Linked DNA regions of Homo sapiens. The protein of the gene in region 1 purifies or fractionates together with the protein of each later gene. This does not show direct contact. Each region holds a gene or a part of one and is shown in the gene's direction. Other genes may lie near its edges.

Region 1 (16,563 bases):
AGGCTGTATGATTCCAACTATATGGCATTCTTGAAGGCACAACTATGGAGACAGTAAAAAGATCAGGAGTTGGATGAATTGGGGTAGCACAGAGGACTTTAAAAAATAGTCATTTTTTTAGAGCAGTTTTTAGGTTCACACCAAAATTGAGCTAAAGATAAGAGATATCCTGTATACCTCCTACCTCCACCCATGCATAGCCTCCCGCATTGTCAACATCCCCACAGAGCCACGGAGCCATACGTTTGTTAAAATTGAACCTACATTGACGCTTCATCACCCAAAGTCCTGTAGTTTATATCAGGGTTTACTCTTGGTCTTGTACTTTATGGTTTGGACAAATGTATAATGACACGCATCAACTCTTATGGAATTGTACACGTAAAATTCACTGCCTTTAGGGCAGTGAAACTTGCGTATGATACCTAATGGTAGGTACATGTTTACACTATATACACCGAAGAGGGACCAGGAGGAAGTCTAGGAAGCAGTTCTTGTAAGTCAGGTTAAGAATTTTAATTAAAAAGGTTTCTTATTTTTTTAATGAGTCAGGATCTCACTATGTTGCCCAGGCTGGAGTGCAGTGGCGTGATCATGGTTCACTGCAGCCTTGACCTCCTGGACTCAGGAGATCCTCCCACCTCAGCTTCCTGAGTAGCGGCAACTACAGGCACATACCACCATGCCTGACTAACTTTTAAAATTTTTTGTAGAGATAAGGGTCTCACTGTCTCACCTAGGGTGGTCTTGAACTCCTAGCTTCAAGCAGTCCCCCTGCCTTGGCCTCCCAAAGTGTTGGGATTACAGACGTGAGCCACTGTGCCCCACTGAGAAGTTTCTTTTTATATATATATAATTATGTAATTTGCCCTAATTGCATAAATTTGATCAGGCATACCTCACTTTATTTGGTAAATTTGGGTAGTCTTTTTTCCTTCTCTTTTTTTCCTTGTTTCCTTTTCCTTCAGTTTTCTTATCCTTTTTAAATTTGTTTTTCTTTCTTGTTCTTTTTTTCTTATCCTTTCTTGCAACTCCCTTTCCTTTTCTCCTTTTCTCTCTCCCCGTTTCCCCCCCATCTTTGCCACTGTCTCTTCTTTCCCCCTCATCTCCTTTTTCTTCTCTCCTGTACTCCCCTTTCCCCCTCCCTTTCCTTTTCGTTCTCCTTCCTTTCTTTTCCCTCTTTCTGTTTGCCTCTACTTCTCTTCACATCAGCACCTTATTTCCTAGCCCATATTAAGAACCTGATTATATGGCTCCTTCTATATATGCTTATATAATAAATAGTATAGACAGTTGTGGTAAGCAGAATAATGGCCCCCCAAGTATGTCCACATCCTGATACCTGGAACCTGTGTATATGTTGCCTTACATAGCAAAAGAGAGTGCAGAGGTGGTTAAGGTTAAGGACTTTGAGATGGGGAGAGCATCCTGGAAGGTGCGCCTGATTTAATTGAGAGTCCTTAAAAAATGGCCTGGCCGTGATCAAAGATATGATTACTAATACATGGTCAGAGAGATTTCTATGTTGCTGGCTTTGAAGATGATGGAAGGGGGCCATGAGCCACAGAATGCAGGTGGAATGAGGATTCCCTCTAGAAGCTGGGAAAGTATGGCAAATGGATTTTTCTCTTGAGCCTCCAGAGAGGAATGCAGCCCTGCTGATAAATTGTCTTTAGCTGAGTGAGACCTGTGTTGGACTTCTAACCTACAAAACTGTAAGACAATGAATTTTTATTGTCTTAAGTCATTGAATTTGTGGTGATTTGTTGTGGCTTCAGTAGAAAACTAATACATTATATACATGCACTGAAATGTGCTTATTTATTTTTTATGTCATTGCTTTATAAAAATAGTACCATATTATAGGACTTTACTGAATCTTTTTTCAGCAATGCCTTACAGAAATACAAATTGTTTGATGTCATTTTTTTTATTGCAAGTAAATTTCTCCACATCCTTGCCAATACTTATTTTCTGTATTGTTTTTTTGATAGTGGTCATTCTAATGGGTCTGAGGTAGTATCTCATTGTGGTTTTGACTTGCTTTTGTCTAATAATTAGTGGTATTGAGCATCTTTCCATGTGCTTATTGGCCATTTGTATATCTTCTTTGGAGAAATGTCTATTGGAGTCCTTTGCCCGTTTTTAAATTGGGTTGTTTTGTTGTTGTTGTGTGTAGGAGTTCTTTCTATATTCTGGATATAACCAACCCCTTATCAGACATGTGATTACCAAGTATCTTTTCCTGTTCCATGGGTTGCTTTTTCTCTCTTGATTGTGTCTTTTGATACCCAGAAGTTTTTCATCTTGATGTAATATATAGTCCAGCTTACCAATTTTTTCTCTTGTTGCTTGTACTTTTGGTGTCATATCCAGAAAATCATCACCAAATCCAGTGTCGTGAAATTTTGTCAGCATGTGTTCCTCTAAGATTTTGATCATTTTAGGTCTTATGTTTAGGTCTTTGACCCACTTTTAATTAATGTTTTTATATGGTGAAAGGTAAGGGTCAAACTTCATACTACTTTTGCATGTGAATATCCAATTTTCCTAGCACCATTTGTTGAAAAGACTGCCCTTTCCCTGTTGAAATGGTCTTGGTACCTTTGTCAAAAATTATTGTGAGGATTTATTTCTGGGTTCTACTTCTATTCCACTAGTCTATATGTCTTTCTGTATGCCAGTATCTCAGTGTTGTGATTACTATAGCTGTGTAGTAAGTGTGAGACCTTGAACTTGTTTCTCCCTTTCAAGATTGTCTTGGCTATTTGGGGTTCCTTGAGATTCCATATGAATTTTAAGGTAGAGTTTTCTCTTTCTGGAAAAACATCATTGGGATTTTGACAGAGATTGCATTGAATCTGCGGATAACTTTGAGTAGTATTGACATCTTAATATTTTTTTCCAGTCAATGAACATAGGATGTCTTTTTATTTATTGGTGTCTTTAATTTCTTTTAGCAATAGTTTGTAGTGTTCAGTGTATAAGAGTTTTGCTTCCTTAAGTTTATTCCTAAGTATTTTATTCTTTTCTATGCTATTGTAAGTAGAATTTTCTTAATGTTCCTTTTGGATTGTTAATTATTAGTGCTTTGTTTGTTTGTTTGTTTTTGAGATGGAGCCTTGATCTCGGCTTACTGCAACCTCCGCCTCTGGGGTTTAAGTGATTCTCCTGCCTCAGCTTCTCGAGTAGCTGGGATTACAGGCACACATCACCATGCCCGGCTAATTTTTGTATTTTTAGTAGAGACAGGGTTTCGCCATGTTGGCCGGGCTGGTCTTGAACTGCTGACCTCAGGTGATCCACTAGCCTCTGCCTTCTGAAGTGCTGAGATTACAGGCATGAGCCAGTGCACCCAGCATGTTAGTGTTTTTTAATGTAACCATTTTTGTGTGTTGATTCATACCTTGCAACTTTGCTGAATTCATTTATTAGTTCTAACAGTTTTTTCATGAATTATCTTGGGTTTTCTACATAAAACATCATGCGATGTGTAAATACAGGTTGAGTATCCCTTATCTAAAATGCTTGAGACCAGAGCGGTTTGGATTTCAGGTTTTGGAATATTCACATACACATAATGAGATGTCTTGGAGATGGGACTCAAGTCTAAACACAAAATTCATTTATGTTTTATATATACTTTAAACAGGTAGCCTGGAGATACTTTTATACAGTATTTTAAACTTGTGCCTGAAACAGTTTTGGTTGTGACCCATCACATGAAGCCAGGTGTGGAATTTTCTATTTGTGGCATCATATCAGCACTCAAAAAATTTCTGATTTTGGATTTTTGGATTAGGGATGCTCAACCAGTTTTACTTCTTCCTTTCCAATGTGGATACCTTTTCCTTTTTTTTTCTTTCCTAATTGTTCTGGCTAGAACTTCTATTTCTTTCCTAATTGCTCTGGCTGAACTTCCAGTATTATATTGATTAAAGTGAACATCCTTGTCTTGTTCCTGATCTTAGAGGAAAAACTTCCAGTCTTTCACCTTCACACCATTAGCTGTGGGCTTTTCATATATGGCCTTTATTATGTTGAGGTAATTTCCTTCTATTCCTAGTTTGTTGAATATTCTTAAATCGTGAAAGGGTGCTGAATTTTGTTAGATAATTTTTCTGCATCAATCAAGAAGATTGTGTTTTTTTTTTTTATTTTGTTAATGTGATACATTATGTTGATTGATTTTCATTATATAGAACCATCATTGGATTCCAAGAATGTCTCCCTTGGTCATGGCATATAATCCTTTTCATGTGCTGTTGAATTCTGTTTGTTATTATTTTGTTGAGGATTTTCACATCAGTATTAATCAAAGATAATGGTTTGTAGTTTTTTTATAGTGTCTTTGTCAAGCTTTAGTATCAGGATAATGCTGGCCTCAGAGTGAGTTTGGAAGTGTTTACTTCCTCTTCACGTTTTTGGAAGAGTTGAGGGAATATTGGTGTTGATTCTTCTTTAAATGTTTGGTAGAATTTATCAGTAAAGCCATCTGGTCCTGGGTTTTTCTTTGTTGGGAGTAAATAGATACTTTAAAAAAATTCACCTTTTAAAATTATTTATACAACCCCATCCAAACTTTACTACCTATCCTGCAATGTTTATTTTTTCCTTTATGGTCATCAGCCCATCCAAGATCATTGATTGCTTCTAATTGTCATGTCTTTTTAGTCTTAATCTATCTGGAAGAGTTCCTGCACCTTTCTCTATCTTTCATGACCTTACCAATTTAGAGAGTACACACCTTTATTCTGTAAGATGTCTCTTAACCTGGGTCTGTCTTGTGTTTCCTAATGTTCAGATTCATGTCATATATTTTTGGGAGAAATACCTCAAATGACTGTTGCATGCTTCTCACTGTATGAGATCAGGAGGCACATGCTGTTGACTTAGTCCACAACCTTGGTCAAGTGGATATTTGCCCCGTCAATCATTTGTCTTAAGAAGGGCAAATTGACTGGTATTGTGAGAGCAGGGGAAAGGAGCTATCATAATTTTACCATGTCCTCAGAATCTCCTTTCCCACTTGAGATGTCCTAATTTAAGGTCATCAAGAATTCGTATTTTAAGAATAATTAGAAGTCATTTAACTTTTTAGGCAAGATGAGATATGAAAAATTTTTGTATATGCTGTGTGGTTAGGGTGAAGGTTAGTTGGTTTTTCTTTTGCATATGCTATCCAGTTATTTCATGCCTGTATATTTTATTTAAATTTTGCTCTAAAGGTTACAATTTGTATATTTACCACAGTCTACCTTCAAATTATATTACATTAGTTCATTTTCAGTGTAAAAAATTTTTCAATAATTTCTATTTTCCTGTTTTTCCTTTGAACCATTTTTGCCATACGTTTTATGTGTATGTTAGACTATAGATGATTTTTAAAAAATATATTCCTTTACGTAGACTTTAAACAGTTTTCTTTTATATGTATATATATTTTTTGAGATGGAGTCTCGCTCTGTCGCCCAGGCTGGAGTGCAGTGCCACAATCTCGGCTCACTGCAACCTCCGCCTCCTGGGTTCAAGCAATTCTCCTGCCCCAGCCTCCCGAGTAGCTGGGATTCACCACACCTGGCTAATTTTTGTATCTTTTAGTAGAGACAGGGTTTCACCATGTTGAGCAGGCTGGTCTCGAACTCCTGACCTCAAGTGATCTGCCCTCCTTAGCCTCCCAAAGTGCTGGGATTACAGATATGAGCCACCACACCTGGCCTACACTTGTTTTTATGGTTTGAGTTTTCATAACAAACTTCCCCTTCCACAACAGATAACACACAAGTAAGTTTGTGTCCTTTTTTTTTTTTTTTTGTCTAAAATAAATTCAGTGAGTGGGTTCCAGCTAATAAGATTTAGCTATATGTTAAAAAAATGTATATTTGAAAATAATCTCTCATAGATGTTGGACCTTTAGACTAATATGCATCATATTTGAATTTTCTGATTCTTAAAGGTTTTTGAAATTGGAAAGTATGTTTTTGGGTCTTTGAATTAGGTTCTTTTTTTTTTTGCTTTTTTTTTGAGATGGAGTTTTCACTCCTGTTGCCCAGGTTGGAGTGCAATGGCGCGATGTCTCACTGCAACCTCTGCCTTCTGGGTTCAAGTGATTCTCTTGCCTCAGCCTCCCAAGTAGCTGGGATTACAGGCATATGCCACTAATTTTGTATTTTTAGTAGAGACGGCATTTCACCATGTTGGTCAGGCTGGTCTTGAACCCCTAACCTCAGGTGATCCACCTACCTCGGCCTCACAAAGTGCTGGGATTACAGGCGTAAGCCACTGCACCCGGCCTAGGTTCTTTAATTAATATATTTTTGGTATTTATGTAAAATGTTTTTCTTTTTCTCCCCCAGAAACTCGTTTTCATCTTCTTGGTTTCATCTTAATACCAACGTCATGTCTGGTTCTAATGGTTCCAAAGAAAATTCTCACAATAAGGCTCGGACGTCTCCTTACCCAGGTTCAAAAGTTGAACGAAGCCAGGTTCCTAATGAGAAAGTGGGCTGGCTTGTTGAGTGGCAAGACTATAAGCCTGTGGAATACACTGCAGTCTCTGTCTTGGCTGGACCCAGGTGGGCAGATCCTCAGATCAGGTGAGCAAATAAGACAGCGTTAGCTGGGAATAAGACTTTTAGAGAAGGTAATGGTTTTATTTGTAAAGTATCTTTTTGACACCTGAAAATAATTTCAATCTATGCTTAGCTGTGTTATAACTCAGTTTCCACATTTGCTTGAATTCTTGCCAAAGATAAACAGTTCATATTTGTTTATTCTTTTGGGGGTTTTATGAGGATACTTCCAAATAGTTAAATCTGTTTTGATTTGAAATAACAAATAGCATCAGCTATGTGTTATGAAATAACAGCTGGTACTGTTATATTTGTTTTGAAATAACAGCTGATGGTATTTGTTTTCATGTGTTCTATTTGGGTTATCAATAGAATATCCTTTGTGGTTATTTTCCAACATAGCTAGACTTGTGAAAATATTTTTCGGAAAATTCTCCAGGTTACTAAGAACAGGATGATGATAAACCAGTGTGAAAAAATAGAAAAGGGTTGGATAAAGGGGAGTGAGAGGGGGAGAATGAGAGAGAAGGGGCTCTCACTAAATTCATAGAAGTGCCGCATTGATTAACATTTTATGTTTATGTTTCTTTTTTATTTTCCAGCTTTATTGATATATGATTGACAAGTAACTATATATATTTAAGGTGTACAATGTGATATTTTGACATACATATACATTGTGAAGTGATTACAACAATCAAGCCATTTAAAATAATCTTACATGGTTACCTTTTTTGTGTGTGTAGTGAGAAGAGTTGAGATCCACTCTCAGCGAGTTTCAAGTATACAATACTGTATTATTACTATTTTTGAGACTGGTGCTCTCTCTCTCTGTCACCCAGGCTGGAGTACAGTGATGTGATCACAGCTTGCTCCAACCTTGAACTCCTGGGCTCAGGTGATTCTCCTGCCTCAGCCACCTGAGTAGCTAGGACTATGGGCATGTTCCACCATACTTGGCTAATTTTATTTTATTTTTAAGTAGAGATGGGGTCTCACTGTATTGTCCAGGCTGGACAAGAACAGTATTATTAACTGTAGTCACCACACTGTGCATTAGATCTCTAGAACTTACTCATTTTGCATAACTGAAACTTTGTACCCTTTGACCATCATCTCCCCATTTTTCCCATCCCTTTATGTTCCTTTTCTAACCCAGGGTGGAGTGCAGTGGTGTGATCATAGCTCACTGCAGCCTTGATCTCCTGGGCTCAAGTGATCCTCCCACTTCAGCCTCCTGAGCAGGTGGGACTACAGGTGTGTGCCACCATGCCTGGCTAACTTTTAAATTTTTAGCAGAGAAGAGTTCTCACTGTATCATCCAGTCTGGTCTCGAACTCCTGAGCTCAGGTGATCCTTCTGCCTTGGCCTCTCAAAGTGCTGGGATTACAGGCATGAGCCGGCACGCCTGGTGATTTTTTTAAAAGGGTGAATCTCTAGAGTCCCAAGGGCATTGCAGCTCTGGTTTTATAATTTCATGGTTTTTATCATTTAATTCTTTTTATTTGCATGTTAGATGGCAGATTGGCTAGAAGTCTTAAGAAAATGTATGGATCATTGAAATTGGAAATTATTCCCAAACAGACCACAGATATTTCTTTGCTCACTCAATGGAATTAAAGCAAGAAAAAAGTGAAACCTGTTTCAGAACTGCCCATGAACTATCCAGTGCTATGTAACTCTTTATTCACTGTCAGTGCAATTATGGCAGGGATTTTATAGTGGTGAGGAGAGTAGTTTAGTTATGTCTGTTTAAAAATGTTTTTGTTGGGCCAGGCACAGTGGCTCACGCCTGTAATCCCAGCACTTTGGGAGGCCGAGGCAGGCGGATCACTTGAGGTCAGGAGTTTGAGACCAGCTTGGCAAACATGATGAAACCCTGTGTATACCAAAAATATAAAAAATTAGCTGGGTATAGTGGCATGTTCCTGTAGTCCCAGCTACTCAGCAGGCTGAGGCAGGAGAGTCGCTTGAATCTGGGTGTTAGAGGTTGCAGTGAACCAAGATAATGCTACAGCATTCCAGCCTGGGTGACAGAACGAGACTCCATCTCAAAAAAAAAAAAAAAAAAAGAAAGAAAGAAAAAATAATTTTTTTTGTGGCATGATACAAATATAGTAAAGTGCACATTTCTTTATTTTTATTTTATTTATTTATTTTTCGAGATGGAGTCTCGCTCTGTCGCCCAGGCTGGAGTGCAGTGGCGCCATCTCGGCTCACTGGAAGCTCCACCTCCTGGGTTCACGCCATTCTCCTGCCTCAGCCTCCCGAGTAGCTGGGGCTACAGGTGCCCACCACCATGCCCAGCTAATTTTTTGTATTTTTTTAGTAGAGATGGGGTTCCACCATGTTAGCCAGGATGGTCTTGATCTCCTGACCTTGTGATCTGCCCACCTTGGCCTCCCAAAGTGCTGGGATTACAGGCGTGAGCCACCATGCCTGGCTGTAAAGTGCACATTTCTTACATGTGAAGGTGTGCAGCTCAGCAAAATTTTACATTTACATAGCTCTGTAAACCACTGCCCAGATCAAGATCTAGAACATTTCCAGCATAGTATGTCTGTTTTTAATTTACATCATATTTATTATGCAGCTTGTGGGGCAAATTCACTGCTTTGTGGGTTTACTCTGATAAGAATATTAATCAGTGTGCATTTGAAGAAATTTAAATTATTTTGAAATAGTAGAAACATCATCAGAAGGAATCTTATTTTTGGAATTACATGGGAGCAAATAGTTTTCATATTGTGCCCACAAACAATTCCTTCTTGCTAATAGACCTTCTTGTAGCATGAGGTAGGAGCTCTAGCTCTTCTGCTGGTAGTCCTTCCTGGAGGGGTTAGTAAGTTTAATAATAATATATATCTTTGTAATGTGTGGTGTTTTGGTTAAAACTTTTTTTTGCCTTAAAAATTGTTTTGAAGGAATAAGATGGATTTGTGAAAAAAAAAAAAAAACTAACCCTTAAAAATTTATTGTTTCAGGAATACTTCTTATGGATAACAGATTGACTTTCATTATTAAGCTGTTGGTAGTTTTGAATCATTATTTCTTATTTTACATTGGTATTCTCATTACAGTGAAAGTAATTTTTCTCCCAAGTTTAACGAAAAGGATGGGCATGTTGAGAGAAAGAGCAAGAATGGCCTGTATGAGATTGAAAATGGAAGACCGAGGTAGGTACTGGGAGCAGAGCATCTTACAATAATGAGTCACCAAAAAGTAGAAAAGATAGTTCATATTTATCAAATCCTTGTATGTGCCAGATGTTGTACAAATTTATTTACATATGTGATGTAATTAAATCTGCACAATAACCCTGTTGGTGGATATTTTTAATTGAATTTTACAGATAAGGGAAGAGAGTGTAAGCAATTTGTATACAGCTAGTAAGTGGCAGAGGCAGCGTTTGAATGCATCTTTTTGTAATTGTATCTTGGAAACAGAAATAATTGAATACATTAACAGAAAGAAAAATTGTTCAGCAGATATTTATTAAATGGTATAGTATCTTAAAGTAAGAATTTATCCAAACATGTAAGAGTAAAAATAAAGATAACCCAATAATTCGGGTCTTTCTATACTTTTTAAAAAATGATTTTCCTATACAACTCAAAAATTATCCATTTTCCTTAAGATATTATAAAAGTGTATCAGCCTGTTCTCACAGTGCTATACAGACATACCTGGCCGGGCGCAGTGGCTCACGCCTGTAATCCCAGCACTTTGGGAGGCTGAGGTGGGCGGATCCCCTAAGGTCAGGAGTTTAAGACCAGCCTGACCAACATGGAGAAACCCCATCTTTACTAAAGATAAAAAATTTAGCCAGGCGTGGTGGCGGGCACCTGTAATCCCAGCTACTCGGGAGGCTGAGGGAGGAGAATTGCTTGAACCGGGAGGCGGAGGTTGCGGTGGGCTGAGATTGCGCCACTGCACTCCAGCCTGGGCGACAGAGCGAGACTCCATCTCAAAAAAAAAAATAGACATACCCAAGACTGGGTAATGTATAAGGGAAAGAAGTTTAATTAACTTACAGTTCTGCATGGCTGGGGAGGCCTCAGGAAACCTACTGTCATGGTGGAAGGCAAGAGAGAAGCAAAGGTACATCTTACATGGCAACAGGTGACAGAGAGTGAATAAGTAAAGGGGGAAGAGCCCCTTATAAAACCATCAGATTGGCCAGGCACAGTGGCTCACACCTGTAATCCCAGCACTTTGGGAGGCCAAGGCGGGTGGATCACCTGAGATCAGGAGTTGAAGACCAGCCTGGCCAATATGGCAGAACCCTGTCTCTACTAAAAATACAAAAATTAGCTGGGCTTGGTGGCGGGTACCTGTAATTCCAGCTACTCGGGAGGCTGAGGCAGGAGAATCGCTTGAACCCAGGAGGCGGAGGTTGGAGTGAGCCAGGATTGTGCCGCTGCACTCCAGCCTGGGCAACAGAGTGAGACTCCATCTCAAAAAAACAAACAACAAAAAAACCATCAGCTCTCATGAGAACTCACTCACTATCATGAGAACAGCATGGAGAAACCGTCCCCCATGATCCAGTCACCTCCCACCAGGTTCTGCCCTCAATTTTCGAGAATTAAAATTTGAGGTGAGATTTGGGTGGAGTCACAGAGCCAAATCATATTAAAAAGTTAGAAAGAAGTGTAAAAATTAGCATGTACCAAATAAAACCAAAGAAGGATCACAGATTTGAAATCATGGTTATCATCTTATAAAAATGTTACACTTTGTATTCTTGGTTCCTGTAAGACAAGGAAATGGTAGTACTCCTCTCATCTCAACCTGGTCCTTCAGTTTTGCTAAGTTCTTTCTTTGGTCATAACTTATTCACCTTTCTATGTTATTGAGTCTTTTTAAGTCAAATTCTCCTTGCATTTGACTGATTCCTTAGGTTCTTTTATAGATACAATTATAAAAATATTATGAAAAGATAGGTAAGATATATAGATGGAAATGCAAGATAGATTGTTCTTTTAATGAAGTCTCTTTGACTAATAGAAACTAACTTTAGCTTGCCTGAGCAAAAGTAAAATTTATTTTAAGGCTATGCTATAGGAATGTCTCAAGGAGCTCAAAGCAAAAATGCAGCTAACTTGAGGAAAAGATGGAATTCGAAATCCATCAGGACTCTCTCTCTGCTTCATTTATGCTTTTGTCTATATTTTTGGCTTATTACTCTCTCTTTGCGAATAACCATCTGTGCTTTTCAGGTTTTAATATAGTCTGTGTGTCCATTCCAGTTTCCTGTTTCCAAGTTATGGTCTTGGTCATCTATACAAACTAATCTGTCTCTTTATGGTGGCCTTGATCACTTGTGTTCAGGGGTGTGTGGTTACATGGAATAAAATATGGTTGCAGGCCGGGCATGGTGGCTCACGCCTGTAATCCCAGCACTTTGGGAGGCTGAGGCGGGTGGATCGTGAGGTCAGGAGTTTGAGACCAGCCTGACCAACATGGTGAAACCCTGTCTCTACTAAAAATGCGAAAATTAGCTGGGCGTGGTGGTGCATGCCTGTAATCCCAGCTACTCAGGAGGCTGAGGCAGGAGAATTGCTTGAACCCGGGAGACGGAGGTTGCAGTGAGCTGAGATCATGCCACCGCACTCCAGCGTGGGTGACAGAGTGAGACTCTGTCTCAAAAAAAAAATATGTATATATATATATGGTTGCTGGCCACTCTGCCCCTCCTCCTGTGAATTTGGAAAGAATTATTGTCAGCTGGGCAGGTGTCTTGTCTCTTCTTTCTGTTGCTATTTGCAAGTCTTGCTGAAATATTTCTGAGTCTAGTACAAAAACAATATAAAAATTCATTCAATTTTAATAACAGTCACTGGGAAAAAAGAATAAAAAGAGATGGCAAAAAGGGAAATTTTGGCAAGTTGTTTATTTACTTTCATATAGTGGGAGGGCAAGAGATACAGCACCATGAAGTAGAATTACATGTTAGAACATTTTAGTAGTACATAATGAAAGTTGAACATTTAAAGAATGTTTACTGAAATAAAATGACACAGGCATGAGTATTGATAGGTTTCTCTGACAAATTTTTAACACTGGATTGTGGCATCAGGTTAAATAGTTGGCATTTTTATAAAATTGTATTTTAGTCTACTTGAAATCTATGAAATAGTAATACTAATACCTTATCATATGCTACAAATATATATTATTGATAATAAAAATCCAGAAACCATTGAGGAAAAAGGGATTTAATGTAACAGGGACAATTTTAATAGGAAGGGTTGTAGGAGAGTAGAGTAGGAAATGAGAATAATGAGAAAGTGAAGAGAGATCTAGGTGTTCCAGAAGAAACCAGGAACGTTCCAGTTTGAATTTAGGAGTATAGGTGAAAACTGAAACAAATCATCACATTGTAGAACCACTTGGGGTATGAGAGCCTCTTTCTGGATCAAGTTTAAAGCATATCACATGCGCAAAAGAAAAATTAAATAGCAGTGTCATGAAATACATGACTTCAGCACCAGATATGTGATAGTTCCATTGGATTTGTAAGGACTTATTCTGTCTTACTGCTTATGTTCTCTTCTTTTGGGTTATATCAAATCAGGTTAAAAAGATGAACACATTCAATTGATTTTATGCTTTTTTTGTTTTTCCAGAAATCCTGCAGGACGGACTGGACTGGTGGGCCGGGGGCTTTTGGGGCGATGGGGCCCAAATCACGCTGCAGATCCCATTATAACCAGGTAAGAACCAATAAAAAGCATATCAGTAGCAAAGAGCTAAGTGATAGAAAAATTGCAGACTGTAGCTATGTTTGTGTATATATGTATACCTGTGTGTATATACATATGTATGTGTTTGTATATATATGTATGTATACAGTCATGCATTGCTTAACAATGAGGACACGTTCTGAGAAATGCATTATTAGGTGATTTTGTTGTTGTGTGAACATCATAGAGTATATTTACATAAAACTAGATTGTGTAGGTGCAATTGTATAAGTAGTATACACCTATGCCATATGCTATAGCCTATTGCTCTTAGGCTACAAGCCTGTACAGCATGTTACTGTACTGAATACTATAGGCAACTGTAACACAATTGTAAGTGTATGTATATCTAAACATAGGGAAAGTAGGTAAAAACACGATATAAAAGATAAAAAACCATACACCTGTTTTGGGCACTTACCCTGAATGGAGCTTATAGGACTGGAAGTTGATCTGGGTGAGTCAGTGAGTGGTGAGTGAACATGAAAGCCTAAGACATTACTGTCCCCTATTGTAGAGTTTATAAACACTGCATACTTAGGCTACACCAAATTTATAAAAAATATTTTCATTTTGTTAATAATAAATTGACCTTAACTTACTGTAACTTCTTTATAAACTTAAACATTTTTAAAACCTTTTTGGCTTTTTTATAGTAACAGCTTAAAACACATCATGCAACTGTACAAAAATAGTTTCTTTTGTTACCTCCTTATTCTGTGCACTTTTTTTAATTTAAAAAAAGTTGTTTCTTCTGTTTGTTTTTAAACTGTTTGTTAAAAACTAAGACACAAACACACACATTAGCCTATGGCTATACAAGGTCAGGATCATCAATATCACTGTTTTCCACCTCCACATCTTGTCCCACTGGAAAGTTGTCAGGGGCAGTAATATGCATGGAGCTGTCATCTCCTATGATAATAACGCCTTCCTCTTGAATATCTCCTGAATGACCTGCCTGAGGCTGTTTTACAGTTAACTTTTTTTATAAGTAGAAGGAATATACTCTAAAATAATGATAAAAAGTACAGTATAGTAAATACATAAGCCAGTAACATAGTCACTTATTATCAAGTATTATATACTGTATGTGATTGTACTCTTATGACTGGCAGTGCAGTAGGTTTGTTTACGTCAGCATCACCACAAGCATGTGAGTAATGCATTGGGTGAGGATATTGACAATGGCTTATGACATCATTAGGTGATAGGAATGTTTCAGCTCCATTGTAATCTTATGGGACCACCGTTGCATATGTGGTCTGTTATTGACCAAAACATCATTATGTGGCACGACTATACACACACACACATGCCTGCACATGTATATTACATAAATATGCATGCAGATGTATATATAATTGATATTTTAAAGAGACTTTATATAAAATCATAGTGATGCGATGTAAGTATAAAGCTGTACTTATATGAGTAGGTTAGGCATTATATAAAGAAGGTAAATTCTATTTATGCATCTATTTATTGAACATCTATTTGTTCTCAGCATTGAGTAGGCACTTTGGTAAATATAAAAAATTCTAAGAATCCTAAGCTGGTTCTCTGTCACTGAAGAGCAATGGCTTTAGTTGCAAGATGGAAAATGTGAAGTAAGAAAACATGTTAAATGTGATCAAATAATATGGGTGATTCAGGATGCTTTAGAAGATTAGAAGATTGGATGTGGGTCATGACTGTGGTAAACTAGTGCACCCAAGAAAGGCTTTATAAAGCAGGTAGATTTGAGCTGAACTTGAACCTTGGGTAGGGAGACAGCAGGAAGCCTAAGAAAAGGGTTTGTAGTAATATCTGAGTAGAGACCAGCTTGGTTGAAACAGAATATTCTTGTAGAAGAGTAGTGGGCGAAAAATGAAACTTAAAGTTAATTTTTGTGCAGTTTTATTGTGGAGAATTTTAAATGCCAAAGTTAGGAGTATGGACTGGAGCCATTGAAGGTTTCAGAACGGGGGAGAGGCATTCTCTTCCGAGGCAGACCTATGTGGTAAGCCAAATCATATTCAAGTCTCTTGATGAGCATGAATCAGAATTAAGAAGGTCAGTGAATCTAATGTTTAGATATGCTTAGCTATCTCCACAGGAATCATCTTTCTAATGTACCTGAAATATTGTCATATTTGTCATCCTTTTAATTTTTATTTTTTTACTTTTAGAATTTCTTTGCTGACCATCTGTCTCCCCACGTGGAATTGTCATGTTCTTTCTTTAAATAATGCAAATATCCTCATATTGTTACTTTCTTAGTTTTGATATTTTGGGGGCTTTTCTTCAAGGAGACTCTGTTTTTCTTTGATCTGAGATATAATAATAATTTGATAGTTTAACTCTTTATATATTTTTTTATTTTCAAGTTACTGGAAGAGGCACCCATTCTCACCCGGTCTTATTTTCTTACTTGCCCTCTTGATTCTCCTGCCAAAAAGGATCTTTACCCAACCCCAAATTTTATCTTCCCTCCATCCATCCATCCACTTACTCACCCATTCACCTACCTACTTACTTAACTACTGATCAGCCTACCTCTCCATCCACATACTGTTAGAACCTCTATGGTTTAAATGAGATGGAAAGAGTTAATAAAAAAAATATTAATGGCAGTGTTAGTTTCTGATTTTGGTGAAGCTGGCTAAAAACAGGAAGGTATGAAATGTTTGAAACAGGAATGTAATGCTAGTAAGGGGACAAGAGCAGAAAAGGGAAGCCAGAGTTTTGAAGGTTAGAATCTAGTTAGCTTATCTTTATCTATGGTGGACCCAATAGTGGCTGGGAGTATACATGGTGATTGTGTATCAAGTTGTTTTGAAATGGTAGACTTTTTTAGCTTAACTTTGTCATACAGATAAGAGAACTGAAGGCTTAGAGATGGTCCGAGGCTATAAGAGAGCCCACAGGTGGCAGAGTCTGGCTTTCAACTGTACTCTTAAGTTGATGTTCTTTGTTATCTCAATAATGCATTAATTAATAATTAATAGTAATGCATTAATTAATAAATTGATGAGTTCCTCTAAATAGATGAGAGGCAGCAGAAATGGAACAGAGAAGAATGAAAGATGTTGAAGGAAGATTCAAGCCTTAGATGAATTGTTAAAAGTATTCTACTTTTAGACTAGTCTATTCCAGGCATCCTGTCAGTGCTATCATTAGTTTTTCTATTTGTTTTTCACAGAAGCCCCTCCAAGTAGGTATTGATATATCTATTTTGAGGATTTGAAAATAGAGACTCA
Region 2 (17,113 bases), on another chromosome or scaffold:
TGCACTCCAACCTGGCTGACAGAGCAAGACTCCATCTCAAAAAAAAAAAAAAAAAAAAAAAAAAAAATCACTGGGTTTACAAGTTTATTAAAGATAGCTTGAATGATTGTTGCCCCATTTCACTTGCATTTTGAAGGAGTCATTGTTTTCTCTAATTTTAAATTAATATACAGTCATTTCTGTGTTTTTTTGCAGAAAGTAAAATTACTCATTCTTATTCATATCCACTTAACCTGCAGAAGGCCAATGTAGTCCGCTGGGAGTCCTCAATAAGGATCACTGCTTTACCCATCACTTGGGCTGGGCATTATTAAGATACAGTGATGGGTAAGGAGAAAACAGAAACGCAAAAGACCGTAATGGGTGGTGAGAGAACAGTACCAGGTTTGGGAGAGACCTGCGCAGGCTGAGGTGTAAACTACCAGAGTGTGAAATGGTTGCAAGATTAAGTTACGATTATGAGGAGTGTCCTCTTGGGAAGTCAAAAGTAGTGTCTGCTGGGCACAGCCCCAGTTTACATTTGGAGATCAGCTAACACCTGTGAATTATTTTACTGCCCCCTTTCACTTTTAAAAATGTCCCAGTTTAGATAATGTTACGTGGCCACTCCATATTTATAAAGCCCAACTAGATTTTCATACATTGGCTAATGGTCTTAAGCAACTAGGTATACATAGTTCTATTAATGCTTGATATTGAGACTGGATTTGGTAGTCAAGAATTGCTATGAAGGATGTTGAGACATTCCTTAATGTGGGAATCACTCCCATGCCACGGTTTGGTCCAGCACACATACAAAAAAAAAATTGTTTTTAAATTTAAAAATTGCCCCATTTGTGGCAACACATCTGTTTAGATATTTACAATACTGAGGGGCAAGGGAAACACACCTTTAAACTATATTAAGATAAGAGACTTTCATTTCTTTTTTTTTTTTTTTTTTTTTTTTTTTTTTGAGACGGAGTCTCGCTCTGTCGCCCAGGCCGGACTGCGGACTGCAGTGGCGCAATCTCGGCTCACTGCAAGCTCCGCTTCCCGGGTTCACGCCATTCTCCTGCCTCAGCCTCCCGAGTAGCTGGGACTACAGGCGCCCGCCACCGCGCCCGGCTAATTTTTTGTATTTTTAGTAGAGACGGGGTTTCACCTTGTTAGCCAGGATGGTCTCGATCTCTTGACCTCATGATCCACCCGCCTCGGCCTCCCAAAGTGCTGGGATTACAGGCGTGAGCCACCGCGCCCGGCCTTCATTTCTAAGATGTCTGGGAAATTTAAAGAAATCTAGTTGATTTCTGTAGGGAGGAAACTTCCAAAGCACTTAGATGGTAAAGATTAAGGGCAGCAGAAATAGAAACTGTTAATGAGACCATGTAAGAAATTTTGCTTGGTCAACCCGGGCAATGTAGTGAAACTCTGTCTCTACAAAGGGTTGTTGTTGTTTTTTTTTTTTTTGAGATGAAGTCTCGCTCTTGTCCCTCAGGCTAGAGTGTGATGGCACAATCTCGGCTCACTGCAACCTCCGCCTCCTGGGTTCAAGCGATTCTCCTGCCTCAGCCCCCTGAGTAGCTGGGATTACAGGCGCCTGCCACCACGCCCGGCTAATTTTTGTATTTTTAGTTGAGAAGGGGCTTCACCATGTTGGCCAGGCTGGTCTAGAACTCCTGACCTCAGGTGATCCACCCGCCTCGGCCTCGCAAAGTGCTGGGATTACAGGCGTGAGCCATAGTGCCCAGCCAACAAGGTATTTTAAAAAGTAGCCGGGCATGGTGGCGGGTGCCTGTGGGAGGCTGAGGTGGGAGGATCGCCTGAGCCCTGGCAACGCTGCAGTGAACTGAGATGGCACCACTGCACTCCAGCCTGGGCGACAAGGGCAAAACTCCGTCTCATAAATAAATTAATAAGTAAATAAGAAACCCAAAATGCGTATCTCTTATTCTGCCACTTTGGATTTACCTACATGTATCAGTATTCAGCAAAACTCCGTCTCATAAATGAATAAATAAGGAACCCAAAATGCAAATCTCTGTTCTGCCACTTCGGATTTACCTGTATCAGTATTCCGTGCTCCTGCACCGAAATGTCGCTGATCCTCCCAAGCAAGTAAACTGAAAATCTTAGTTCTAATTTCCTAAGGACTACAATGTTAGGACTACATGTTAATATCAGAACATGAATGAATAAACAATAGAACATAACTAGTTATATTCGCCAGGCGCGGTGGCTCACGCTTGTAATCCCAGCACTTTGGGAGGCCGAGGCGGGCGGATCACCTGAGGTCGGGAGTTCAAGACCAGCCTGGCCAACATGGAGAAACCCTGACTCTACTAAAAATACAAAATTAGCCGGGCATGGTGGCGCATGCCTGTAATCCCAGTTACCCGGGAGGCTGAGGCAGGAGAATCGCTTGAACCAGGGAGATGGAGATTGCAGTGAGCTGAGATCGCGCCACTGCACTCCAGCCTGGGCAACAAGAGCGAAACTCTGTCTCAAAAAAAAAAAAAACTAGTTATATTCATAGCCTTGATTTTGTTTGCATATGTTCCTAATGCTATTTGTAAACAAATCCCAGACATCAAGAAATGGATTTTGTTAATAGGAATTTCTTCAGATTTTAGGAAAATCTGAAGAAAAATAACTTCCGGATCTTCCTATCAACACATCCTTTATTGTGTCCCCCCCTCTCTCTTGCTTGTGATAGCTGTGGTGGGCTAAATATATTCCAGCACTAATACCCTATCCTAGCCTTCATGTCAAGTGTTCACGATTCTTAAATTTTACTCTTCTAGTGCATACAACAGTTACTGGAAAATGCAGATTTAAATTATTTGAAACAATGATTAAATTCTGCTCCTGTGCTCCAAGGGGCTTTTACGTTACCTTTTATTGAGTTAATAAAAATGGAAATAGTTTTCAATTGGTGCAGTTTCTAAACTTCTCAGCAAAAATCACTAATCCAGGCTAATGGGAAGAGAAAAGCAGCAGCAGGGTTTAGTTAGAACTGAACTTTAAGATATGCTGAAGGAAAAAAAATTTCTAAAAGTGTTAACAAGGGGAGGTCCATGGAGACCTTAATAGCTAAAAACCGTTGTAATTTAATGTATAGAAATAAATACTCTAAACCATTTTAGAGTCTTCATTCTCAGGACTACCTCACTGTGTTTATACAGTTAATATGCACTAGCTAAGACTAAAGTATTTGTCCAATTCTTATTTAAATTTCCCCCTAGACTGGTAGGGTCTTAAAGTAATGATATTTTAACTACAGTCGGTTTATTACAGGTGACCTAACGGTGCCTGTTGTGCCTTATAAAGGCCAAGACTTTCAATTATCCCTAATAAGTATACAATAGGATACCCATTGTTTCCAAGTGCTTTTAAATTCTTGACGCTGATGAGACATTTGCATCGTGACCAGCCACCAGTAAAATCTTTTAAGCCACGTTTTTTCTGCTTTTCTTGGGCACTCTTTTTTTTTTTTTTTTTGAGACGGAGTCTCACTGTTGCCCAGGCTGGAGTGCACTGGTGGAATCTCAGCTTACTGCACCCTCCACCTCCTGGTTCATGCCATTCTCCCACCTCAGCCTCCTGAGTAGCTGGGACTACAGGCGTGCGCCATCACGCGCAGCTAATTTTTGTATTTTTAGCAGTATTGGTTGCGCCATGTTGGTCAGGCTGGTCTCGGACACCCGACCTAAAGTGTCCCGCCCGACTGGGCCTCCCAAAGTGCTGGGATTACAGGCGTGAGTGCTCGGCCTCGGGCACTCTTTACTGAGCAACAACAGGTTGGAGAAACTAGTAGGGCTTCCAGTTTTTTGGTAAACCTATTGTTTAAAAGTCTGCCTGGTCATCAGATTCCAGTCGTCTTGTTTCTGCCTCAGATGATAAAACTCTAAAATTATAGGATGTGAGATCTGGAAAATGTTTGAAAACACTAAAGGGGCACAGTAATTATGTCTTTCGTTGCAACTTCAATAGCATGTATATTTTACACACTTTCATGACCATTAATCATCTCCTAAAACTGGGGAAAGCTCTCTAAAACCTCCTTAAGAGTAACCTTATCCGTTACCCTATTCCACCAACCTCTTTGTCCTTTTCTGTTTCAAGCAACTTTGAGATACCGACTTCTCTATGGAAGCTTAAGCCGTAGATGCTAAAACAAACGTTTGCTCGTTACTCCCAGCAGAGCACCGGCTTTTAAAGGACCTCAACAGACACGTTTCTTAACCTTTACGAAACTTTTCCAGGGGAAACTTAAACCAGGAATTTTACAATCTGGCATAAATTCTGTCACCCGCCCCGTGACTCCATCGCCACACATGCCACCTGGCTCCACACCACAACAAACAGGAGGGAGCGGAACCCATGCAAAGCAGGAGCTTCCCCCGTTTCCGGCGTCTGGGTGGATCTACGTTAGCTGCCGTTTAGGCAGCTTACGCGTCAGGTGTGGGCCTAAGCCTGCAGCTAAGGTAGGCATCCGCAAATCTAGTCCTTCTCTGTGACAATTTCCAAAAAGAAATGGTTTTTGAAACAACGATCCACTGCTTCCCACACTATCCAGTTAGGTCCGGGACAGACCCTACCCAGCTAATGCACTCACCCAAGAAGGCAGTCGCTTTCGCATTTGAAGGGCGGGGCGAAAAAGACCGGAAATGAACATTGGCGACTTTTTTGCGCAGGCGCAGATGGCCGTCTCCCATTGGTCATCTCGGCTCGGTAGTGGTAGGAGGGACTTCCTTTGCACATGCGCCAGGCTGCTTTTCCGGCTTTGTTGGAGATTGACGCGGCAGTGCACACCTGCTGGTACGAGCAAAAGTAGCCGACAGGCCAGAGTTTCCAGTTTCGGTGGCTTCGTAGGCTTTTAGCTTCTGAAATCCGCTAAAAGCGGCGGTTCATTCATCTTCAAGTACCTAGCCTGACTGGTAGGGCTGCTCAGCATTCCGAAACATTTCGACCTGGGGAGGGGGGCGGCGGTGAAAGAATACTTTCTGTAGAGAGTGCCCCTCGCGTCGCCCCTGCTTTGAAGGCTTTATGTATTAACGGAATGCCGAACATTTGTGTCCTACTTGCTGACAGCGCACAGGATCCTTCTAACAGTATTTCTCAAGTACTTAACAAAAAGATGAAAACTTGAAGTCCAAGCCGTGCTGCTGATTCCGTCTCACAGTTTAAAGACTGTCCAGAAACTTTAAGCTTTCAAAACTGTACATTTTAAAATCCTGTGCGTTTATCTTCATTTTGCTGGGCAGAAAGCCAAAGTACTGGACTGCCTGGTTCAGGGCTGAACGCCTAGTACACCTGCTAACTTGGAGCTTCAGAGCCATGGCAACCAAGGAGTCAAGAGACGCCAAAGCACAGTTGGCCCTCTCCTCATCGGCCAATCAGAGCAAGGAAGTGCCTGAAAACCCAAACTATGCTCTCAAATGTACTCTTGTGGGACACACGGAAGCAGTGTCATCAGTTAAGTTTAGTCCTAATGGAGAATGGCTAGCAAGTTCTTCTGCTGATAGGCTAATCATAATTTGGGGAGCATATGATGGAAAATATGAGAAAACACTCTATGGTCATAATTTGGAAATATCGGATGTTGCCTGGTCATCAGATTCCAGTCGTCTTGTTTCTGCCTCAGATGATAAAACTCTAAAATTATGGGATGTGAGATCTGGAAAATGTTTGAAAACACTGAAGGGGCACAGTAATTATGTCTTTTGTTGTAACTTCAATCCGCCATCCAACCTTATAATCTCGGGATCTTTTGATGAGACTGTAAAAATATGGGAGGTGAAAACAGGAAAGTGTCTCAAGACTTTGTCTGCTCATTCTGACCCAGTTTCTGCTGTTCATTTTAATTGTAGTGGGTCCTTGATAGTGTCAGGTAGCTATGATGGCCTCTGTAGAATCTGGGATGCTGCATCAGGTCAGTGTTTAAAAACGCTCGTTGATGACGATAACCCTCCTGTCTCTTTTGTAAAATTTTCTCCAAATGGTAAATACATTCTCACTGCAACTTTGGACAACACTCTTAAACTATGGGATTATAGCAGAGGCAGGTGCCTGAAAACATACACTGGTCATAAGAATGAGAAATATTGCATATTTGCCAATTTTTCAGTTACTGGTGGAAAGTGGATTGTGTCTGGTTCCGAGGATAACCTGGTTTACATTTGGAACCTTCAGACTAAAGAGATTGTGCAGAAATTACAAGGCCATACAGATGTTGTGATCTCAGCAGCTTGTCATCCTACAGAAAACCTCATCGCATCAGCAGCATTAGAAAATGACAAAACAATTAAACTGTGGATGAGTAACCACTAATCCCTTTGAAAATCAAGTAGTAGAGCCAAGTTGGCCAAAAAACTTGGATATTTAAAAAGACGGTTTCTTTTAATTTTGGCAGTTTGGTATTTTAAAAATTGTCTATTGTTAAATTTTGAGATTCATACACTACATTTACAAAATGAGATAGTTGAAAAAGCACATCTAGAATTCAGCTTCTGACTACCAATCTTTTTTGAGCAACTTTTTGTAATTTTTATGGATTTATGTCACTTTTATTACAGGGATATATTGCATAGTGGTGAAATCTGGGCTTAGTATACCCTCACCCAAATAGTATACATTGTACCTAGTAAATACTTTCCCATCTCTCACCCCACTCCCACCTTTGAAGGCTCTAGTGTCTATGATTCTGCTCTCCACGTCCAGGTGTACACATTGTTTATCTCCCACTTACGAGAACATGTGGTTTTTGACTTTCTGTATCATTACTTCACTTAATGGCCTCCAGGTCCATCCATGTTGTTGCAAAAGATAAGATTTCATTATTTTTTTTTGGCTGAGTAGTATTCTGTGGTGTGTATGTGTGTGTGTGTATGCATATATGTGTATGTGTATGTATATAAGTATATACACCACATTATCCAGTCATCTGGATATGTATATAAGTATATACACCACATTTTCTTTATCCAGTCATCTCTTGATGGACCCTTAGGTTGGTTCCATAACTTTGCTATTACGAATAGTGCTGCGATAAACAGCACTATTATGAATAGTGCTGCGATAAACAGTGCAGGTGATTTTAAAATATAATTTCCTTTGGGTAGATACCTACTAGTGGGATTGCTGGATCGAATGGTAGTTTTTAGTTGGAAAATCTCCATACTGTTTTCCAGAGGTTGTAAAATGTACATTCCTCCCCACAGTGTATAAGCTGTGCCTTTACTCTGCATCTTTGCCATGATTCTTTTTGAGACAGAGTCTCTGGTGCCCAGGCTGGAGTGCAGTGGCACAATCTTGGCTCACTGCAACCTCTGCCTCCCGGGTTCAAGCAGTTCTCATGTCTCAACATCCCAGGTAGCTAGGATTACAGGCGTGCCACCATGCCTGGCTAATGTTTCTATTTTTAGTAGAGACAGGGTTTCACCATGTTCGAGGCTGGTCTTGAACTCCTGGCCTCAAGTGATCCACCTGCCTCGGCCTCCCAAAGTGCTGGGATTACAGGCATGAGCCACTGTACCCAGCCATTTTTTGACTTTTTAATAATAGCCATTCTAACTGGTTTAAGAGAGTATCTCATTGTGGTTATATTTTGTATTCCTCTGATGATTAGTGATGTTGAGCATTTTTTTGTGTGTGTTTGTTGGCCACTTGTATGTCTTCTTTGAAAACTGACTTCTAATCTTGAGGCCTATTAATAATTTCATTTGTCTGTCACTGGACAATTTCTCATTCCTCTCAGTGACTATCCTAGAGGATCAGTGTATTTGAGAAATATTTAGAAGTAAAGTTGACAGGACAGGATGATTGATTAAAAGAGGGGAGCAAGGGAATTTGAAATAATTCCAGGGTTTCTGGTTTGGGAGATCAGATGAACAAGTGCATAAGCCTGGGATGCTGGTGGAGGACTGGAGAGACATGGCAGATGCTACCTGCACACTTTTGGTAATATTCTGTGTGATGGGATATGAAATGGTCCATAGAAAAAAACCGGAAAAATACGCCAAGGTTAGGTTCATTCTAAGAGTCTAAAAATTTCAAAAACCAAAACAACATTATAAATGGTGTTTCTCAAGGACCTTTCACTACCTTTTTAGATTGTGCTTGTGATTTTCAGGCAAGCTAAATGTCTGATGAAGACTGCTCTTCTTTTGTTCTGTGTCTGACCTACTAATTCCTGCCCATGCTTCAAACTCAGTTCAGAAATCACTGAAGGAACCATCCACTGCCGGCCTGCCTGCAACCACAGCTGACAGCTGAGTTAGTTAGGTTTTCCTGTCCCTATTATTTACCAGTTTGTACTGAAATGCTTTCATGGGCTGTGCTTCCAGATTATGAGTTCTGTGGAATCAGGAAGTATGTCTCTGTATTCTTGTATTCTTTGGCTTTTTTGTGTAGTAAAGGGACTCAAGTAATGTTTGACAGTGAAGGATACAACTTCATTCCTTGCCTGCTTTGATAAATTTTAGTAATAAATTCCCAAAACTATCATGTTGATTAAAAATAAAAAGTAACCGTAACCTCACACATTAACTTTATTCAAACAAACAGCACTTACAGGAAATGTAAAGTAGAAAAAGATTTCTGCCCACTTTACCTACGGAGACATGATAAACACGCAAAAAAAACCTAGAAATTAAGCAAAAAATAGCACAATAATTTAACTGAAAGCAACAAGGGCAAAACTGTCTCCTTTTGTAGTTTGTGGTACCTTATAGTAGTGCTCATTCAGTTTCGTTTGCTTGATAAATCTGAGGACTATGAGATATCAGAGTTACTAGTAGGGTAGGAGTGCTGTAAGGGTACTGGGAGAAGTAGGATTAGTTAGGGGCAGATCTTGAATTCTGGCCAAGAAACTGATATTTAACCCATAAAGAGATAGTCACTATATGTTATCAAATAGGAGAATAACACAAATGAGAAATGACTGTTAATTCCTGATGCATAATAACAGTTGTGAGCTTTAGTTTAATGTAATATTTGTAATAAAAACGTTTGGCCAGGCACCATGGCTCATGCCTGTAATCCCAGCACTTTGGGAGGCCGAGGGAGGCTGATCACCTGAGGTCAGGAGTTTGAGACCAGCCTGGCCAACATGGTGAAACCCCCGTCTTTATGAAAAATACAAAAATTAGCCAGGTGTGGTGGTGCACACCTATAATGCCAGTTACTGAGGAGGCTGAGGCACGAGAATTGCTTGAACCCGGGAGACGGAGGTTGCAGTGAGCTGAGATCATGCCCTGCACTCTAGCCTGGGCGACAGTGCAAGACTGTCTCAAAAAAAAAAAAAAGGTTTCATTAAATTTAAGCTCATAAATGTTACTACATTTATAATGTAAATCTCCAAGATACAACACATTTTTGTTGTATTGCTCTATGAAGAGGATTATTTTTAAAAGAAATTCCACATTAAAATTTATCCACATTTAAAACATTGGTGTAGGTGTCCCAAAATAAGAAAAACTAATCTTCTAAAATGTACAAGAAACTATGCTTTTTGAAAATAAATTTGCAAGTGATAACTTGATACCTACAAAGAAGCTAAGGCCAAATTAAAGTATATAGACAGACATCATAAACATCCTCAGATAGATTATCAAGCTATAGGTAGTATGTTACATTTTACTGGGTATTTTATTTGGGAAGAAAGTGCCCAAACAGCTGCATGTATTTTTAATCTCTCTTATAACTCTCTGAGAACCAGCATGTTGGCATGGCTGTATACAGTAGTCACCCCTTACCCTCTGGGGATATATTCCAAGACCCCCCAGTAGATGCCTGAAACTGTGGATAGTACCCAACCCTGCATATACTATGTTTTTCGTATACATACATACCTATGATACCGTTTATTTTATAAATTAGGCACAGCACAATGCACTTTGAGGCAATTATTAAATAAGAGTTACCTGAACACTAGCACTGATTCCACGACAGCTGATCTCGTAACAGAGACGGCTAGCACATACAGTGTGAATACACCAGAGAGAGGGATGATTCACATCCCAGGTGGATGGAACAGATTGGCAAGAGATTTCATCATGCTACACTGAATGGTATGTAATCTATAACTTATGCATTGTTATAGGAATTTTCCATTTAATATTTTCAGACCTCAGGTAACTGAAACCACAGAAAACAAAGCCGTGGATAAGAAGGGACTACTATAATGGCTTGTCATCCATGAATAATTAAGAAGCATGTGAGAATCAATGTTTAAAATAGAAACCTGTATTCATACCTAAATATGAGACAACTCGATATCCCAAGGTCAAACTGTAAATGAGATATATATGAGGTGCAAATACTTCTAACAGTAATAATACATGAGATTTTTATAATTGAGAAATTTAGTTTCTCAGGTGGTAAGAAAACAGCCAGTTGAGAATTCTAAGGCATGAAGCTAAGAGGTGACTTGTGTTGACCCCAAGCAACTCCATGACGCTGGGATTTCTAAGTCCTTAGAAATTCCTGGCTGGACCTTGTCAGAATGTTTAAAAAACTATTCTCCTAAAAGCCTCCATCTGCCAGCATGTTCAAAGATTATAGAATGTGGTCTGGCTGCTTCTCAGCGCTCGCTCTATTAGGGGGCAGCCTCCCCACCAGTACACCAGGACATTTGAGAAGGCTGGCCCTCCAAGCTGCACCTGGGCCATATACTCAACTGGCCTTCCTTATCTCCTCAAAATGAGTTCGCCTGTGGAGAGGTTACTTTGATAATGGGAAGAGAAGTAAGATATGGTACCTGCTTCTCTGAAGAGTTGGTATTCAAGTTGAAATAAATTGTTTCATTTTTCTCCAAAAGGCTGAGAGGCTACACTTGACTTGGATCAAAACAATAAAACACAGTCATTATTTAAGAAAATTTATTTCTACTTCTACAGCAGAAATACGGAAATGGTACAGGTTTGGGCAAATCATACTTTATGAAATGGATCCTCATACCACATCCTTTTTAATACAGGCACGTTATAACATAATTCCTGGATTTTCAAAATCCAGCCAACACGGATACCTCTGCTACTCTGTTTTGGCCTTCATAGCTGCTTCCTCTTTCAGACGAGCTTTCTTTTCTAAGTTCAAGCTTGTTAAAGTCTCGTGTCTTTGGGCAGCCTAAAGCAAAACAGATTTGAACAGGTGATTTGTATGCTGGTCAGGGGAGGGTGTCTTTACCTTGCACTGATGACAGCAGGTTAACAGAGGCATGGAGGCATGGAGTCCTCTGCTGCTTGCACACTGAGCACGGCAGTTTCCTCTATGTGCTTCAACTTCCTCGTACGCTTCCAAGAACAGCAGCTCATCCACTCAAGCATAAGTAAGAAGTGCCACACCTCTCCTTTTTCTTCCCTTCTGGCCCCTTTCTTTCAGTCTTTATCCTCTCCTTTTCTCTTATACTTTCTTCTCATTCCACCCCACTTCTCTTTTATACTAAATACCTTCTCATTGCCATTTCTATCCCGTTTTTCTTCTTTCACTTTTCTCTGTTGCTGCCATTTCTCCTTCCCCAACTTATCTGCATACTCAGATCCTTCTAGTTCCTCACTTCTCTTTTACCAAAAACATTCAGCTTTGGGAATCCCAGACTTTACCCAAATACTACCATTGATGATTTCCACGAGTATCTGTACTACAATTCCAACCTTTGAGTGGGGGAGGCAACCGTCCTCTTCCCTTGTTTCCCTCCATGTAAACGGTCAGATTTCTATGAAGCTTACATACAGGCCAGTTTCAACACTTTTATACCAAATAGTGAAACTAGCACCCTAAGCTGATATTTCCTTCTATCTGTGTAATTTCATATGTAAAAGAATTGGGTATGTGGCGGGGGGTGGGGGAGCGGGGGGAGAAAGGGAAGTTGATGGTGAGAGCAAAATATACAATGGCTAATTTTTCTCTTCCAAATCACATTGAGTTCAAAAGTTCTCCATTCCAGTAGTATTTATGGAAACAGAAATTCCATAAAACTAAAATGTTACAATTTTATGGTAAAGAACAGGAGAAGAACTCTCTAAAATACACAGCATATACCCCTGGATGATGCTAGAAGAGATTCCAGGTGAATAATTTGCTTCTGGAGTATTTAAACTCAGCTAGTACAATCGAGTATACAAAAGCAATGCAAATTTCTCAGAATCCTAGAAGCTCACAGTCCTGTCCACATGTTTCTGCTGGTTTTAATCTGAGAACTATGCATGAGAGGTCAAAGAGGGAGACAAGAAAAAATGAAGTGGGGTGGGAACAGAGTTTTCAAGAGAACTTCACCCAGCTCAGCACATTTGCCCCTTCGTACTCCCATGAGGTCAGCCTAAAATGGTCAGTATTTCCATTTAACTGCAAGAATGAAGACAGCCAAAAGTACATTTCCTTTTACTCTGGAATTACTGAGGATAAGAAAGTCAGTTAAGAGTGCGTGTATAGAAGGACCTTTTTAGTATCTTAAAGTAGTTGTAAGACATCACTTTCCACATGGAAGCTGTGATATATAGAATTATACATGGTATTAAAAGAAGAATTTGACCAAAGCTGCTGAATATAAAAATAACTATGGCTTAATAGCAAGATAGTATAGTATGAGGTTTGGTAACCTGCAAACTTGGGTCTAGATTTTTATCTTGCCACTTGTTAGCTGTGTGAGTTTGGGAAAACTATTTACCTCTTAGGGTTATGGGGGTGATTAAGTGAGCTTAACAGTGCCTGTTACATAATAAGCACTCAATAAATGGGAGGAATTTTCCTATTACCTGAATTGGGTCTAGGTTCACACTGTGGCTCGTCATTAAGGAGATATGTGGCCTTGGGCAAGTTACTAAAGCTTTCTAAGCTATAGTTTTCCTCATCTATAAATCAGGTCCTAATAATACTTATCTTACAGTGTTTTTGTGAGGTTCAGATGAGATACCAGCTAGAAAAGTACCTGGAATGCAGTGAGTGTTCAATTAGTGATAGCTATTAATTATAATCTGTGCTAAAGATTTCTGGACTTGTATTCCTATGTACTGCTTAGGAGCTGTGGTCCTTAGACACATGGCCCTGTCTGGCTGAGCTTCAAATAAAGAACCCCGCTAAGAAAGCTCACCATGCTGAAGGCAGTTATGGTGAGGGTAAATACACTTGGGTACCAAGAGCACTCTGGAAATATGCAGTGGGTGATTAAATATGCCAGTGTCCTATTTCTTAATTTACATTATGACACCTGTCATCAGAAACACTTTTTAAATTTACATTACACAAAATGAATCTAGTCCTTCTTCACCACGCCAAAGTTAGGATTTGCTATCTATCCCCAAGGATGATATTCCAGGCTTGTTCCCAATATGTCTTATTTTTTTGCTTATCTTTTCTCATGTAATGTAGAAAGTAGCCTCCTCTTCTCAGAGGGTAAATACAAGGGTCAATCCCTGATTTACTCTAGGTTCTTGGTGGAGAACATACATACTGGATAGAGAAGAAACCCCTTCTCACCTTCTTGCCCTCAATAACCATGAAGATGCATCCTACCACCGTCAGGGCAATCATTAGATAGCTGATCTTCACTCGCATCTTGTTCTTTGCAGCATCAAGCATCTCCAACCTAGTAATACAATGAGATCATGAGAGAAAGTTATTAACTTTTCCCTTTCTGAAGTTGCTCAGGATAAAAGGCTGTGTATAAATTCAAAATGTAGTAGTGTCTATAAATATAAATAGGGAGACCTAGAGATCTCTTTAAAAAGGGCCTAGAGATCTCATAGGACTTTGGGGAGGATGAGGCATTTTTCGTAACTCATTTATGTATAAAATACAGGATAGCACACAATTAAGTACAAAAGAAGAAAACAAAAAGAGAAGTCAAGAACAAAGCCAAAAAAAAAAAATGGGCAAGGCATATTAATCTACACTTGCTATGGTGGACCCCAATTTTGGCTCTCAGGTTTCCAAGCAGCCTATAAATGCTAGAAGTGAAACAGTCATTTCTCCCTGAGGTTCTTAAGAAGACATTATGTGATGTAGTCATCGTCTGAAAACATCTCGACAACAGATACTACAATAAGCTTCATATGTTTCAACACAAAGCACAATTCAGAATGATCAAACATTGGAGAAAGTTAACCAATGTGCTCCATATACCCAGCTTTTTGCTCTCTGTCTTGAACCCAGAATAGATTTGAGAATATCTAAAATAGTAGGAAGATCCTTTAAGCAATGCTCCTCAATATTTATCTTTTTAAACAAATGTTTTGCTAAAATTGAGTGACAGTGAACTTGATATTGTGGTCTTTGGCAAGTGCCAAAGTGCAGCTCTTCTAACCTATCTACTGAATACAGACCCATGTGCCTTAAAAAAAAGTTGATGGTTGGTTCATCATTCTTGTGTGAAACCTAAGAGGCTTAATATAGAAGAGTCTAAAGGCCAATCTACCTTGGTGATTTTGCAAGTAGGCAGTGAGTCATGGTTCTATTTTTAATTTACTTTATTTAAAGAGATGGGGTCTCACCATGTTGCTGACTCAAAATCTTAGACTGAAGCGATCCTCCTGCCTCAGCCTCCTGAGCAGCCGGGGCTATAGGCATGCATTGCCACACCTGGTGGTCACGATTCTGTTACCTCGGTGTCTGGCAGAACCTCAAGGCAGGGGATGTGGAGCCCTTATGGGGCCCAGGATTAACTTATGGCCTTCTCAGTAGATGTGTAAATAGGAAGTGATTATCTCTAGATGATGGGATTGAAGTGCTTTCTTTCCCCTGAGATATTTAACATATATTACTTTTAAAATTGGGGAGGGGAGTACTTTAAAAATGCTTGGAAGGAGGCAAAGAGTCTGGGATGTTGCAGGTGGAAGGAGGAAGATGATGAAGCCATGTACAATGTGATGTAGGAGCTGGGACCTGTGAGGCAGCATGTGGACGGGGTTCTCCAGGCACTTAAGCTGGGCCTGCAGGCTGGCAGGAACCCAAGACAACTGCTAAGGACTGTCAAATTGGTCAGTTAGGAGCACCTGAGATTCCACTAACCACAAACTGACTTCCCATGTTGACGGTATTTTATGGGATTTGAAGTGCCATGATCCTCATGAAAAGTAATCCATTCCATAGGGAGTAATAGGAATGGGCAAGTTAAGCAGTGCCTGTTCAGAACTACCAGCACAAGGACAAATGGCTGCCCAGGCCCAGAAAAGACCCTTCCAGAGTGATTCGTGAGGTAGTATTTTGGGCCTGAGGGGATCTTGGAACCAACTATTAGGCAGACTGAGGAAGGTGTTCTATAGCAAAGCCTATACAGCATCTGTTAAGGCCATGGGTGTCTACCAGCTTATTTTCTGCTGGTATAGGAAGAATTAGGGCATAGGCAAGAACCTGATGTCACTGTTATTTCCAGTATTCTCTTATTTCCCAGAAGAATACATGACTTGAGCTAAGAAAAACCAGGGCTTTCCTGCTGAAATAATTCTAGTTAAAGTAATGTGCTATCAATTTGACTGGCAGAAGCAGAAAAGCTCTATTAAAGCTGTTGTAAACAGAAAGTAAATACTACATATTTCCCTGGGAAAGAAATCCTGAATGAGCTCAGATCTTTTTCAATCATGACTTGAAACCAGAGACCAGAAGATCCAGGAATAGTTTCTTGCTGACAGGGAACTTCCACGAGCTTTGTCTGAAGTCCCTGTCCCTGAATAGGATGATGCCTCACAGAGGAGATGACATCTATTTCTCAGAATCTCTTTTTAGCCAAGATGCCAGCCAGTCAGGGTCTTTAACATGAGGCTAGGGCACTGGTTCTCAACCAGGGGAGATTCCCACCCCGCTCGTGCCCCTTGGACATTTGGCAGTGTCTGGAGACATTTCTGGTTGTCAGCACTGCCGCAATGCTACGGGCATGTAGGGGGCAGAAGCCGGGGATGCTGCCAAACATCTTCCAACAAATAGGACACCCCCCTGCCACAAAGCATTATCAAGCCCCAAATATCAATAGTACTGAGTTGAGAAACTGGGTTGGAGGAACCTGCACTCATCATCTACAAACTCTGAAAAAGTTCCATGATCCCAGCCAAGATCCCTTCCCTTAGGTTTAAGGAAGTTGGTGACAGGAAGCACTCTTTCCTGAATTCCAGAATATTGCAATTAAATACTTTTACACCTAAGGTTGAGTACTTAAGTGGATTTGGGGGAATACAGTCATTGTCAATGGTACTTAATTTATATACCTAGATTAAAAACAAACTTTAAAAAAGTCACACTTCTGTAGCCAGGGGATGAAATCAAATAATCAATTGACTTCAGAGTACCTGACAGTTCTTCACCAGTCACTGTGTAACTTAACAATGATAAGACACAGGTTTTCTAGCATTGTTTATATTCCAAGTACTTACCAAAGATAAAACATTTGGAAAAGTGAAAAATGTTTTCAAATTTGGTTGAAAAGTTTTAAACAGTTGGAACTCAGAGGCATTGCTTTTCCCTTAGATCAGTGAGAAATGAAAGCTGCTTGTAATACTAAATTCAGCACTCACGAGACAGTCTCTGGGATTTCATCTTCCTTTTTGAAGCGACCTGACCATATGAGGATCTTTTTCTGCCAATCCGTAGGTTTGTGTAAAGGCACTCTGTTGTAAGTGCCTATGAGAAAAACCAGACAAGAAATTTTATGTGTTTGAGATTATAACTCTCAAATTTAACAACAGAAAAATGGTATTAGTGCTTTTTAACTAGTCACTAAACAGAAACACTGAGAAACCTCAAGTTAATTAGAACTTTATTTGAATGGAATTTCTTAGGATGCTTCATTTTCCAAATAAGATTATAAAATCCCAAGGAAACGGTGAGGAGCTTGTCTGACTTCAGCAGACTAAGAAAAAGTTTGTAAGGTACAATCAGATTTTACCAGATCTTGAATGTCAGGCTAAGGGGTTTAGACTTGATTGGGAACTACTGTACATTTTGAAACAAGGAAGAAACTAATGTTTTAGGAAGGCTTATTATCTGTACAATGGATGGAGACAGAAAAGGGGGACACGGTAGAGTGGGCAAAAAGTCCAAATGGGAGCCTGTAATACCATGGTGAGCGGATATTCTCTGAACCAGAGTTGTCGCAGTGGAAAGAGAGATGAGGTCAGTCTGAGGATGACTGAAAGAATGTGGA

What was found.
Region 2: the proteins of NUDT9 (region 1) and WDR5B purify together in Homo sapiens (affinity purification with mass spectrometry; 2 studies listed by BioGRID and IntAct, with this or other methods). This does not show direct contact.

The regions. Positions count from the first base shown.
Region 1 is NC_000004.12:87,428,625-87,445,187, forward strand, and holds part of NUDT9 (ADP-ribose pyrophosphatase, mitochondrial isoform a precursor), read left to right. Parts: intron 1-6,356; coding exon 6,357-6,596; intron 6,597-9,652; coding exon 9,653-9,748; intron 9,749-13,204; coding exon 13,205-13,291; intron 13,292-16,563.
Region 2 is NC_000003.12:122,403,735-122,420,847, reverse strand, and holds WDR5B (WD repeat-containing protein 5B), read left to right. Parts: upstream 1-4,785; 5' UTR 4,786-5,319; coding exon 5,320-6,312; 3' UTR 6,313-9,002; downstream 9,003-17,113. Other genes in the region: protein FAM162A, read right to left, coding at 11,017-11,109, 13,459-13,567, 16,485-16,590. UniProt on the Homo sapiens protein: May function as a substrate receptor for CUL4-DDB1 ubiquitin E3 ligase complex.